2 linked regions of the Homo sapiens genome follow. The protein of the gene in region 1 purifies or fractionates together with the protein of each later gene. This does not show direct contact. Each region holds a gene or a part of one and is shown on either strand. Other genes may lie near its edges.

Region 1 (3,816 bases):
CCGTGGGCCGTACCTGTGGTCTGAGTAGATGTTCGACACTGAGCTATAGCGCCGCATGGGAAGCGGGTGAGCCAAAAGGTCTGTAGGATGACGCAGGTCCGTGACTGAGCCATACTGCAAGCCCTGCCCTAGGTAGCGTCCATCCGCAAAGCCCAGGCTGTAGGAGTGCTTCAGTGAGCTGAGGTCCATAGCCGAGTCTCGTCCAGGACCCTGGAAGAGCTGCCCGATCCTCTGGGCATGGTAGTTGAGGCCAGCCTCAGCCAAATTGGTGTCAGACATGGAGGAGTACAGCCTACCAGGCAGGCCTTGTGGGTAGGGCCTCTGCTCCTCATGGGGCCCAGGCCCCACCACCCCCTGTGCCCGGTAGGTTGGGGGCTCAGGAGGCTCAGGGTCCCGGGGACCATAGAAGGGGCTGCTGCTTTGGCCAGGTGGGGCAGCATCTGCCATGCTCTTCTCAGGCACACTGGGGGCCGGGTGGAAGGTGCCAGTGCAGCTGCTGCCAAAGGGGAGCTTGTAGACCATGTCACAGCATGCCAGCTGGCTCTCAGGCCTCATCCCGGTAAGGTCCAGGGCACCCGCAGGCTCCTCTGGGAGCAGTGTGGTCACAGTGCCTGCTGTGCCCTCTCCCATCTGCACCACCACTGTGTGTGGCTTCCTGGCACCTGGCAGAGCATGTGACCGCAGCTCTGCAGGGGTGGCCCGGTGGGGCTCGGCACCTGGCTCTGGCACTGGGCCTGGCTTGAGGCCAATGCTCTGGGCGGTGCCCATCTGAGTGATCAAAACGTCTCTTCTGGCCAGAGGAGCTACTTGGTTGGGTAGGTTATATCTGGCAAACTTGGCCTCCCTGGGTCTTCCCCGGGGCCCACTTCGGTATGGGGCTGTCTGGACAGCCTGCTCTACTTGTTTGACCTGGGCCAGGCACACAGGGCTACCCCCACCCTGGCCAAAGTCAAGGCGGCTCTGGTAGGGGTCTCCATAGACCACAGGCTGCTTTTGTTGAGCCATGAACACAGACGAGGCCATGGTGATGCTCACGGTGGTGGCAGTAGCAAGGAAGGTATGCTCCTGGGCATTGAGGTTGATAACCAAGGGCTGCACGGCGGTCGACTGCCGTCCTGGGATTGGATCCAGGGCAAGACCATACTTCCTCGCTTCCACAGCAAGAGAGGTGAGGTCCATGCCCTGGTCAGTGAGGATGATGGGAGTGGGCTTGACAGCTGTACGGAGGTCTACCACTGCAGTGCCAGGGGTCCTGGGGCCTGGCTCAACCCTAGACGTCCCAGGGACAGAGGAGATCCGGCACAGGGAGATGTTCTCAGCAGGGAGGGCACCCCAGCCATATAGTGCCAGGGGCCCATCTGCACCAGCACTGGGCACCCGTGGAAAGCCAGGTGGCCCAGGTGGCTCTGGGGGCAGCTGAGACACACTCGGAGGTGTTGTCTGGCTGTAGCCATGGGTGGTGGGCTGGGTTTCAGTAGGTGAGCAGAGCGGGGAGGTGGAGGCACTGGCATGTACCATCCTGGTCTGGCTGGAGGCGTCAGATGCCAGCGTGATGACCATAAAGGGAGCCTCTTGAGAGGACTCCTGCCACACCAGGCGAGGCGTGCTGGGTCGATGTGGTGTTTGTGTACCCTGGGCTACCATAGGTGATGGAGTGGGGGCACCAGGGCTCCGTGGCATGTCTGAGGCAGGGGCTGGACTTGGCGTCTGTGTAGAGAACTCTGCTGTGGCCCTTGGGCCCATCTTGCCAGGGGAGAATGTGGGACTCTCTGAGGGGGAAGACGGGGAGAGAGGTGGGCTGGAGCTTGCAAAGTAGGAATATGCCCGGGAAGGCTGAGGAGTGCCACCCTCACCGTCACTCGCACTCAAGGGCTTCTCTCTAGCAGCTCGTCCAGCTGCAGCAAGGCCACTGGGGGCCTGGGGTAGATCCTCAGTTTGGGACCCATAGTTTGCAGTGGTTGGGCTGTGTCCATAGCTGTGGGCTGTGGAAGATGGTGAAGGACTACGCTCGGAGCCTGCTGGGGAGGCTGGAGTCATATATCCTCGTGGCAGCCCAGCTGGACAAGGAGCCACAGCTGTGGTGGCTGGGGTCCCAGGGCCCTGGGAAAAGGGCATGCCTATCTCCTTGGAGGCTGAGCTGGGGGAGGCAGGAGAGCTGTGCAGCTTGAGGGGGTCCTGAGTCTCCTTTGCAAAATGCTGAGTGACACGGACATCGGGAATAACTCGGCCCCCGCTGCTGTCTGAGGAGGTGGGGGTAGAGAAGGACACAGGGGCAGCGAGCTGGGTGGGACTGGTACCAGGGGTAAGGGGGCCACCATTTTGCTTCATTGGGTCCATGTATGCACTCTCAGCATTTAGAAACTGCTTCTCCTTCTTTTTGTCCTCAGCAAAAGCCAGGTCTCGTGAGGAGGCCTGCCGCATGCGGACTATGCTCTGTGATGTCTGAAGGATTTCTTCGTACACGGCTGCTCCCAGGCTGGCTGGCGTGCCCTCTGCGGCAGGCTGAGCAGCCTGGCCATACTCACGGTCTGTAGTGTCTTGATATTCGAAGGAGCCCAGGCCCCGGGGGCCTGTGGGCTGAGAGGGGCCGCCATGGGGTCCCCGGGCCCCTGCTGCCTGGCCTTGCTGCCTCTGGAGCAGCTCAGCTTTGCGCATCATCTCCTCATAAGCCTCCTCAGCGCTCTTGAGCGGCCGTCCGGAACTGGGAGTGGTGGAGCTGCCGGAGGGTGTCTCGGTTGGTGAGTAGAGGGACATGAAGGTGGGCAGGTTGTACTCACTGCCTGACTTGTAAAGCCGGCTAGGGCCACCATCCAAGGCCTCAGCCTCAGAGTCAAGGGAGGGTGAGGGTGAGTACTCAGAGCAGGAGGAGCGGTGTAGCTCCTCCATCTCGGCCGCCTGCCTCAGCTCCTCCGTCGGGGAGGCATCCTCGATGGGTGACAAGTTACTGGGTGGTGTCTTGGAGCGCTCTCGCCTCCGCTGGGCCCGCAGTTCTTCCTTGTCCCGCCGGGTCTTGCGGGCCGTGCTGCGGATGCGCTGCTGCTCCACCTCCCGCATCTTCTCTTGCTCACGAAGCAGCTCCTCTTCCTCCCGCAGCTCCTCCTCCTCTGAGGAGTCCTCGATGGTGGGTAGCAGGGGCCCGTGGGAGCGGTGCCGGGCCTTGCGCTGCTGCTTTGCTTCTTCTAGACGCTGCCTGCGGCTGGGGCTGCTGTCACTGTCCTCCTCTAGGGAGGACAGAGAGGTGGGAGAGGTGCCCGAGGTGTAGCTGGGTGTGGAGGCAGGCAATGTAGAGGAGTGCTCACCACGGGAGCGGTCCTCAGGGGAGCCCGTTAGGCTCTCCATCTCCAGCTCAGGCTCCCGGTCCAGACTGGGGTCTGGGCCTTGGCCCAGGTCCAACTCATGACCATAACTTCCCGTGCTGTTGAGCTCAATGGTCTTGAAGCGACGGAGCCCACCCTGCAGGGTCCCACTGCCATCGGTAGCCTCTGCTGAGCCTCCCTCAGGGAGCAGCTCCTCATAGCCCGTGGTGGCATTGTGGGGCAGGCGCCTCTTGGGCAGTGCTGCTGGTTCTTGGCTAGGCTCAGGCCTGGGTCTGGGGCCACCTTTCTGGGTGCCATGTTTGGCCAGGCCACGCCCGGAGGTGGCAGTGTCATCCTCCTCCAGGTTGTCTTCCTCGGCGCTCATCTCGAGAATCTGCCGTCGCATGAAATCCTCATCAGTCAGTTCTGCTGCCCGGGCTGGGGGCTGGGGTGGAAGAGGGGACAGGCCACCCTCACTGCTGTCCTCCACATAGTCGTGCCTCAATTGGCTGCCAAAGTC
Region 2 (3,816 bases), on another chromosome or scaffold:
ACTTAGAAGTAGGCCTAGCCTATAGTAGGTGCTCATTAAATAGTAATTCACGGAAGGAATGACGTCACCTCCTCCATTAATCCTGGGAGGCTGAGCTAAGAGCTGTCCCCCAGAGGCGCGGGCAGGCGCTGTCCACGGTGCTGAATGCTCGGTCCCACCCGTGTACCCTCAACGAACTAGGCTCCCTCCTGGAGTGGCCCTGGGGGACCCCTCTTGGAGCGCTCCTCGGGCCCCAGAATGCAGTGGACTCTCAGAAATGTCCTGCACTCAGAACCGCCTTCCAGAAAGCTTTTAGTCTCCATTAATAAAAACATCATCATTGATTTTTTTTTTTTTTTTTTTTTGACGGAGTCTCACTCTGTAGCCCAAGCTGGAGTGCAGTGGCGCGACCTCGGCTCACTGCAACCTCCGCCTTCGGGGCTTAAGCGATTCTCGTGCCTCAGCCCCCTGAGTAGCTGGGACTACAGGCGCGCGCCACCATACCCAGCTAATTTTTTTGTATTTTAGTAAAGACAGGGTTTCACCATGTTGCCCAGGGTGGTCTTGAACTCCTGAGCTCAGGAGATCTGCCCGCCTAGGCCTCCCAAAGTGCTGGGATTACAGGCGTGAGCCACCGGGGCCGGCCCATCATTGATTTTTCATGTCTTTTGCTCACGATTATTGGGCCTTCCCGTAGGCCAGGAGTCATGCCAGGGGCTCTGCAAGCCTCATTAGAGAGTTCTGGCAAACGTAGATGGTGGATGCTACTCCTGTGCCCATTCCACAGATGAGCACACCAAGGAATGCAGAGGATGTGAGACTTGCCAGGAAGTGGTGGACTTAGCAATTCACACTCAGGCCTGCTGGACCCAGGATGCCCTTATTGGCACCTTGCAGAAGAGGTCCATTGTATGTGGAAGAAAAGTGAGGCCAGGTTAGGGAAAGGGTTAGGCTGCAGCCCTGAAGATGCAACTCTGGAGGGCATCCCATGAGAACGGTAGGAGCTAAGACCTAGATGCAGCTCCTCCTAGCTGGAGGGTATCAGGGACTGAGTAGCCAGGAACGGAGGGATGTGTGAAGGCTTCTTAGGCAAGGAGCAGGGGAATAGCCCCGATGAATGGAGAGATTGTGACATGTCTGTTTACTAGATGCATGAGAGAAGAAAGCAATCCTGGCTGGGCACAGTGGCTCATGCCTGTAATCCCAGCACTTTGGGAGGCCAAAGCAGGTAGATCACTTGGTGGTCAGGAGTTCGAGGCCAGCCTGGCTAGCATGGTGAAACCCCATCTCCACTAAAAATACAAAAAATTAGCTGGGCATGATGGTGTGCATCTGTAATCTCAGCTACTCAGGAGGCTGAGGCAGGAGAATTGCTTGAACCCGGGAGGAGGAGGTTACAGTGAACTGAAATTGTGCCACTGCACTCCAGCTTGGGCAACAGAGCCAGACTCTGTCTCCAATAAATAAATAAATAGAAAGAAGAAGGCAATCCCAGGGCAGAACATCACTCCACAGAAGGGACTTGGCTGTCTCCGAGGTCCTGGGGTCTGAGAGAAGGCTCAAACTTCTGCCAACCCCAGTAGGCTCTAGAGTCAGTCAGCTCCACCTCTGGCTCTGTTCCACCAGGCAAGTTGTTAAAGCTCCCTGAGCCTCAGTTTTCCTCATCTGTACAATGGGGCTACTGTAAGAGTTAAAGAGGGCATGGGCATAAAAATCCTTAACATCATGCCTATGAAATGCTGGGCTGGGCACGGTGGCTCGAGCCTGTAATCTCAGTACATTGGGAGGCCGAGGCAAGAGGATCACTTGAAGTCAGGAGTTCAAGACCAGCCTGGCCACTAGAGATGTATTTGTATTTTTAGTAGAGATGAGAAACCCCATCTCTACTAAAAATACAAAAACTAGCTAGGTGTGGTAGCACGTGCCTGTAATCCCAGCTACTCGGGAGGCTGAGGCAGGAAAATCGCTTGAACTTGGAAGGTGGAGGTTTCAGTGAACCGAGATCACACCACTACACTGCAGTCCGGGTGACAGAGTGAGACCGTGTCTCAAAAAACAAACAAACAAACAAAAAAGCTGGATAAATGGGGTTTGTTGTTGATATTATTGTAAGTTGTGAAGCAAACCCACCCTCACCTAAATTCACTGATTTGTTCATGTCATTTATTCATAACATGTTTATAGAGCCTTTAAAACATCAGTTGGGCGTGGTGGCTCACACCTGTAATCCTAGCACTTTGGGAGGCTGAGGAGGGTGAATCACTTGAGCCCAGGAGTTCAAGACCAGCCTGGGCAGCAGGGCAAAACCCTGCTTCTGCAAAAAATTAAAAAGAAAAAAGTCAGCCGGGTGTGGTGGTGCATGCCTATACTCCCAGCTACTTGGGAGGCTGAGGCAGGAGGATCACTTGAGCCCTGGAGGTCAAGGCTGCAGCAAGCTGAGATCATGCCACTGCACTGCAGCCTGAGTAACAGGCTTTGAGTGAGACTCTGTCTCAAAACAAAACAAAACATCAAGTGGCCTGTGCAAAATGCTGTGAGGCACATAGGAAGATCTGGAAGTAACCCTTCACACCACCATGCTTTTGCTCATGCTGTTCCCTCCACCCAGAGCACCATCTCCCTCCTGCTCATCTCCCCCTCATCACATCTTCTGAGACTCAAGTAAATGGTGGTGGTGGAATCAGGGTAGGCTTCCCAGAGGAAGAGAGCCCTGGATACCCCACTCCTCAGCTCCCTTAGCCCTCCCTCATCTCTTTCATTCTAACCCCATGGGACGTGCAGGAGTGATGGCTAGGAATAGGGCTGGGTCCCAGAGCCAGGAACAGTGCCTGGTATACAGTAGGTGCTCAATTAATGCTTGTTGCATAAATAAAATAAGTGACTTCATGAAGGAACCAGGTGGCATTTACCATTCACAGCCTCAGGATCCTGCCAAGACCTAGTCAGTGGATTACGATGTTGGGAAGCAGCGGGGCACCACATGAATAAATAAATGAAGCGGGCAGAGATAAGGCCCATACACCATACAGGGTGGTCTGCTATGTGTTGGTGCTGGGTGTATACACAAGAGCTTGCATTTGCCTGTACTTGCTTGGGTATTTGCAGCAGTAGTTGGCTCATCTTACCAGGGCAGGCAGGTGCCTGCCTCTACATGGATATGAGTGTGCATGTGTGCAGAGTATGTGCACCATTTAAGTGCAGGTGGGAGTCTGCACATGTGTGTCTAGGAGTGGGGTGTCACTACATCAGAGACACACTGGTGTGTGTGAGCTTGTGGGTGATATGTTAGGTGGAAAACACACATATTGATGTTTGCATGTGTACATGGATGCAGTTCTGTGGCAGCTGTATTTGTTTATCTGCATACATGTATGCACTTGTGTGCAATGAAATACTCAAATGTGTATTTACTTGTATGCATCATCATCCACTTGTTGAAAGGGGCTGCTTTGAATGTCCAGGCAAGTGTTGTCATGTGCATACACACATGGCTTTGACATGTGCTTATATGAATATATATGTGCTTCATGGGGTTGGGGACCTTAACAGATATGTATGGGTACATGTCTGAGTGTTAGGACATGAGTGAATCTTTTTTTTTGAGACAGAGTCTCACTGTGTTGCCCAGGCTGGAGTACAGTGGCAGGATCTCAGCTCACTGCAACCTCCACCTCCCCTATTCAAGTGATTCTCCTTCCTCAGCCTCCCGAGTAGCTGAGACTACAGGTGCGCGCCACCACACCTGGCTAATTTTTTTTATTTTTTAGCAGTGACAAAGTTTCACCATGTTGGCCAGGCTGGTCTTGAACTCCTGACCTCAAGTGATCTGCCCACCTT

Evidence for each region.
Region 2: the proteins of BSN (region 1) and UNC13A purify together in Homo sapiens (affinity purification with western blotting, with the first as the bait; one study listed by BioGRID). This does not show direct contact.

What each region holds. Positions count from the first base shown.
Region 1 is NC_000003.12:49,651,969-49,655,784, reverse strand, and holds part of BSN (protein bassoon), read right to left. Parts: coding exon 1-3,816. UniProt on the Homo sapiens protein: Scaffold protein of the presynaptic cytomatrix at the active zone (CAZ) which is the place in the synapse where neurotransmitter is released.
Region 2 is NC_000019.10:17,681,629-17,685,444, forward strand, and holds part of UNC13A (protein unc-13 homolog A), read right to left. Parts: intron 1-3,816. UniProt on the Homo sapiens protein: Plays a role in vesicle maturation during exocytosis as a target of the diacylglycerol second messenger pathway.